Linked DNA regions of Homo sapiens: region 2 is linked to region 1. The links come from fine-mapping of genetic effects on gene expression. A gene starts in region 1. The other region holds a variant in brackets. All regions are shown on one strand. Distances are from middle to middle. Region 1 holds the start of NTN5 (netrin 5). Region 2 overlaps MAMSTR (MEF2 activating motif and SAP domain containing transcriptional regulator).

The links.
Region 2: its variant is fine-mapped to the expression of NTN5 in whole blood (TOPMed, PIP above 0.99). The same link has a PIP of 0.9 or more in substantia nigra.

The regions. Positions count from the first base shown.
Region 1 is chr19:48,671,588-48,674,485 of GRCh38, forward strand. It overlaps NTN5 (netrin 5), which reads right to left and starts at 1,430. Exons shown (of 7, transcript NM_145807.4): 1 at 1,345-1,430. LOC105372431 (a long non-coding RNA gene) reads right to left here. Exons shown (of 3, transcript XR_936016.3): 3 at 1,559-2,200. It also overlaps the pseudogene SEC1P.
Region 2 is chr19:48,715,132-48,718,029 of GRCh38, forward strand. MAMSTR (MEF2 activating motif and SAP domain containing transcriptional regulator) reads right to left here. Exons shown (of 10, transcript NM_001130915.2): 3 at 1,574-1,612; 4 at 494-636; 5 at 131-315. Among named protein-coding and RNA genes, the nearest start is that of MAMSTR, 3.1 kb to the right of the region's middle. The variant T/C (reference allele first, on the strand shown) is at 1,071.

The sequences.
Region 1 (2,898 bases):
TGGGATAGGTGGGCAGGTGGGCTCAGAGACACCCAGCCTGGCAGGCCCTGGGGAGGGGAGGGAAGGGGACAGGCTAGGGGTGTCTGGCGGGGGATCAGAAGTGAGAGACCGAGGCCCAGGCCTGCAGGGATCAGAGCCATTGCCTTTCCCACATGGGGCCCTAACCTTGTTCTCCACACCCTGGGCACGGAAGGGGATTATCACCAAACAACCCAGCCTCCCTGCCACCCGCCCACCCACCCCCAGCGCCCCACCCTTAACCCTTTCCCACCCGAGTGCAAAGCCCAGAGAGCTGAGCTGAGGAAAGGGATGCTGGGAGCTGGAACCTGGGTGGCTCTGGGGCTTGGGAGCGGGACAGTGGGATCCCCATGGGGTCAGGGGAAGCAGACACCTGGGTTCCCTTCAGAACTCAGGGTGTGGGGACCGGAAGTTAGCGTTCTGGGACTTTCTGCTCACCTCAACCCTGCCCTCTATTCTGGGCCTCAGGGCCTGGAGACCAGAGTCCCCACATTCTCCACCCATCCAGAGTTCCCCAGAGCAGATGGGGGAACAGATGTTGGGGGCGGTGGGTAATGAGGAGGAGAGAGGCAGGAAGGCAGGAGCTGGGACAGGGTGGGGTGCCAGATGCCAGGGCGCCCGTGGGGGCAGAAGCCCAGACCCTAGGAATGGCAGGAGCTGGGAAGGACTGGACTCTGAAATGCCCCCACTTTCCCCTTCCAGGGCCAGCAGCCTCTGGTGAGGAGCTCACTGTGGACTGGGGGCCTCGGAGCCTTTCCAGGCCCTTGGCTCTGAATCTGCGCCCAGGAATGTCCCTGGGCTGGGCATCTCTGGGGCACCCTGGCGGTTGAGGTGGGCCACACCTGCCCCAGCCTGGCCTCACTGCCCATGTCCCCACTGCTGTTGGCCACATGCAGACGCTGCCTCCCCTGGCCCAGATGACAGGCCTCGCCCTCCGCCCTCCCAAGGAGCCTGGCGCCATTTTGCACCCACTCAGGTGGCAGCCGCCTGCCTGGCCCTCAGCAGCATCCTGTTAAGGGCCAGTCCCCCATGTCCCCTTTCTCTCTGGATAGTTGCTGGATAGTTCAGGGGGTGGCACCCTCTGGCCCTTAGCACCTTGAGGAACCAGGCTGTGAGTTCCCTAGTGTTCCTGGGGGATCCAGAAACCAGTCGTGGCCCACAGAGAGCCCATACCCCTCTTTAAGAAAGAGTCCAGCCATGCTCCCAGCAGACTCATAGGAGGCCTGCCTGGGCGGCCTGGGGTCCATCTGGGACCCAGGCTTCCTTTCCCTGGCTCTTGGCATGCACCCCCCAACCCGAGCCCTGAGGCCCCGACATTGGCCAAACCTGCACTCAAGAAGAGAGCGTCCTGCAGCCAGTTCCCCGCAGGCTCTTCCTCCAAGCTGTGGCGCGGTGGGCTCTCAGGAGGGAGTGGCGTGGCTGTTCTCAGGCCCCAGGCTAGTGGGGTTTCTGGGCTGGGCGGGGGCTCAGAGCAGAGCCCGCAGAATCTAACACCGCCACCCCCCTCCCACCCCAATCCCTCACCAACCGCAGCCACGCTATCCCCACAGGGACCCCTGCCAGCCAGGCCACCCGCAACGGTGTGGGACGTGAGTGCCGTTGCCCCCGGCGGTCCAGCAGCAGGACAGCCCCGAGCAGCCTGGCCTAGGAGGCTCACCGCAGGTAGGACGGGAGGCTGTCAGTCGGGGGTCCCGCTCCATCCCACTCCACCCCTGCCCACTGGCTCAGCCCCGCCTTGTGGTGGCCGCCATCGCGATCGGGCAGGGGCTGACCTTTGGGAGACAATCGCTGTTGGAAACTTTGCTCAGCCCCTGCCTCTGGCTGCGTGACCCCAAGCCAGCCCCTCCTCCTCCTCTCTGGAACCTTTTGTCAGCTGTGGGTTCACCGAGCCTTAAGGTCAGTAAAATCTGTGCTCTTGGAAGGTTCAGACCAGCCCCTGGAATTCAAAAGACCTCAGTCGCTTTCTAAGATGGTGGGGAAGGCGACAAATGAGCTGAGAACACCTGGGCCCCAGTGTTTCTCATGCGGCAGAGGGAGAAGGCGGGGACCCCCGGGGTGCGGGGGACCAAGCTCAAAAGCACCTCCCCAGTGCCGCTGGTGTCCTGCGAGTCCTCAGTGCTTTCATCGTGACATTTTCATGCGAATGTTGCTGTCTGTTCTATTCCATCTCCGAATGGGTTGACTAGAAAAATAATGTTTTCTGTCACTTCCCGCTGAGAAAAGCAAGGGCCTCATGGAGTTGGGGCGCGGCACCTGCTGCCCTGGGTGGCCCCAGCGTTTATCGTGGTGTAGCGTGGGCCCAATCCTGACAGGCTTGGGACCCACTGCCCCAGGCCCGCCCCCAGGGGGTGCGAGGGCACAGCAAAGGCGACCCTCGACTCTGGACCCTTAGGTACCACGTTGGAGGGGGCCAGATTTGGCAGGAGCAGGACAGGGACATCGGATTTGAAAGAAGGGAGTCACTCCGAAAGCTGGGAGGTGCATCAGCTGCAGGAGGATGGAATGGGGCTGAGACGCCCCCCATCAGAGGGGGCATGTCAGAGCTGGGGGCCCAGGCTGTGTGAGTCAGAGTGGAACTTCGGGATTCAGGCGCAGGTCCCTCCGCTGACCCTGCCTGAGCTCCCCCTGTATGGGACTTTGCCGGGGGTTCGCGCTGGGAACACAGACCCCTGCCCCATCAGGCTCAGTGTCCAGAGAGGGAGGGGGAGACCCCAGCAGCGCAGGTCCTTCTGTGCTCTAGGTTGTTGGAAGGTGCCAAGTGCCTTGGAGCAAAGCAAGTGGGGGGGGCGGCCACGGGGGCCCGGGGATTGCAGATGTAAGTGGGGTGATGCGGAGGGGCATTTGTGCTGAGCCCACCGCCAGCACAGAACCCAGCTTTGC
Region 2 (2,898 bases), 44 kb after region 1:
GGACTCTTAAACCCTGGGAGAAGAGAGGGTTGGGGGCCCCAATCCCCTAATCTTGGACTCGAGGTTTGAGGGAGGAGGATGCTGGGACCTGAATTTCTGGGTCCCGGGAGAACAGAAGTGGGTGTCATACCTAGGATGTGGCTGCTGCGAGTCTGTCCCTTCCCACAGAGATGGCCCAGGAGGACCCAGGGCGGACCCCTCGGCTTGGGGGTCCGCCCTGGATCCCTGTCTCGGCTCTGGGGGCATGTACTGGTGGTATGTCAAGTTCCCCCTGGGCTTGGACTCCCTCCAACGTTGGGAGATCTTGGGAGACTCCTGAAAGAGCAGGTGTGATGTTTTAGGCTTCAGCGCGGCTCCCACCTTCCGGCCCCAGGACTACATGCAAAGTATGGGGTCAGCTCGGTGCCACCGAAGAGGAGCAAAAATGGCAGCAGCAACAAGGGAGACAAAGACTAGGCTCTCAGAGGGACCTCTCCCTCCAGTCGAGACTCACCTTCTTTGGGGACCTCCAAGGAGGACAATATTCTGGCTCGGGGAGCAGGACCCCAGGGCTGAAGAGGAAAGGGGCCGTGCCCGAGGGCAAGGCCGGGGCCAGAGGAGGGTCTGAGGCTGAGATCCACGGGTCCGGATCCGAGACTGGAGAGACGGTGAAGGACCCTGAGAGGCCTGCAGGCAGCAAGCCAGGCCGGGAGGAGCAAGGCTGTGTGGAAAGCGGGGCTCCAGGGTGCCGGAGGGCAGGCCAGGGAGCAAGACTTGATTGCTGGGAGATGGGCGCCTGAACTGGATCTGAGGGCGGAGGTGTGGGGGGGCTCCGGTTGCTACATTCTCAAGTAAAGCAGGAATTTTCTATCACAAAGGGGTGTGGTAGCTGAGGATCACAGATGTCTGAGGTTTTGCTAGGACAGGGGTGGGGCCTGCACTCCTGGTTCTTGGGGAGAGGGAGAGGCTGAAAGCTACATCCAGGCCGGCCGCGGTGGCTCACGCCTGTAATCCCAGCAGTTTGGGAGACTGAGGCGGGCGGATCACTTGAGGTCAGGAGTTCAAGACCAGCCCGGCCAACATGGTGAAAC[T/C]CCGTCTCTACTAACAATACAAAAATTAGCCAGGCGTGGTGGCACGTGCCTGTAATCTCAGCTACTCAGGAGGCTGAGGCAGGAGAATCGCTTGAACCTGGGAGGTAGAGGTTTCAGTGAGCTTAGATTGAGCCATGACACTCCAGCCTGGCGACAGAGCAAGATTCCATCTCAAAAAAAAAAAAAAAAAAAAAAGCTATATCCAGAGCTTCTCATGTATACCAAATGTGGAGACCAGGATGCCTGTCTTCTCCAAAGAAGCAGGATCCAAGTTCAAGCATCTCATTAGGGTGGAGAAGCAGGAAGCAGAGCTCCTAGGGGTGGGGTGGCCAGAGACCTGGACCCTGGATCCTTGGGAAAGGACAGGATGGGATTTTGGTCTGTCCCAGGGGATGGAGACTGAGCTGCAGGAACCAATGAGGGGTATCTGGCAGCTGTATTCCAGGATATCCCAGTGGGGAGTGGGGGGTCACCATCCCCTCCCTTTTGGGGCCCATACTTACTCTGCTCCTGATTCCGTCTGTGGATCCGAAGCTGGAGGACTGTGGAGGGAGGAGGGAGGTGGGAGGAGGAAGGCGGGAAGGGAGTGTCCAGGAGCCTGGCCTGGCAGGCTGGTGGGAGCTGCAGTTGTTGGCGGGATATGCGTGCCCAGCCCCCTTACACAGCCTGTGCAGGCGGGTGGGCGGGCAGCAGGCTCCCTTCCTCGGGCCTCCCGCCTGCTCCCTGCCAGCGCAGCGCCGCGGGCCAGCGCCATTCTGGGGCTACGAGCCAGCCAGCGTGCAGGCTGGAGGCAGCCCTGCCCCCGGCTCCACCTGCCCCCTCCATGAGCAAGCGTGTGCCCACCCCACCCCCTGCGCAATCGCTATCTTGGCAGCCTGGCCCCTTTGCACCTCGCCTCCCTTTATCCATGCACTCCTGCTACTTTCTGTGCTATCTCGGGGCCTTCCCACAGTCAACACTCTCCGCATATCCACATTTTCAGTATGCATCTCTCTGGGCTCTAGTTTTGCACACATGCCATTTTTACGCACTTGCATGTTTTTGCAGACTCTTCATCCTTGACTCACTCTGCCTCAGCATCCATGTTAACACTGTTTTTTTTTCCTTTTTTTAATTTGTTTTATTTTTTTAGAGACAAGGTCTCACTCTGTAACCCAGGCTGGAGTGCAGGGGTGTGATCATAGCTCACTGCAGCCTTGAACTCCTGGGCTCAATCCATCCTCCCACCTAAGTCTCCTGAGTACCTGGGACTACCTAAATTTTTTTGTTTTGTTTTTTAATTTTTTGTAGAGACAGGGTCTTGCTGTGTTGCCCAGGATGAATGTTAACTATCTTTTTTTTTTTTTTTTTTGAGACAAAGTCTCGCTCTGTCACCCAGGCTTGAGGACAATGTCACAATCTCAGCTCACTGCAACCTCTGCCTCCCAGGTTCAAGCGATTCTCCTGCCTTAACCTCCCAAGTAGCTGGGATTACAGGTGCTCACCACCACACCCGGCTAATTATTATTATTATTATTTTTTGAGACAGAGTATCGCTCTGTCACCCAGGCTGGAGTGCAGTGGTGCGATCTCAGCTCACTGCAACCTCCACCTCCCGGGTGCAAGCAATTCTCCTGCCTCAGCCTCCCCAGTAGCTGGGACTAGAGGTGCACGCCGCCACACCCGGCTAATTTTCTGTATTTTAGTAGAGATGGGGTTTCACCGTGTTGCCCAGGCTGGTCTCGAACTCCTGAGCTCAGGCAATCCGCCCGCCTTGGCCTCCCAAAGTGCTAGGACTACAGGCATCAGCCACCTTGCCCGGCGTCATTTTTTTGTATTTTTAGTAGAG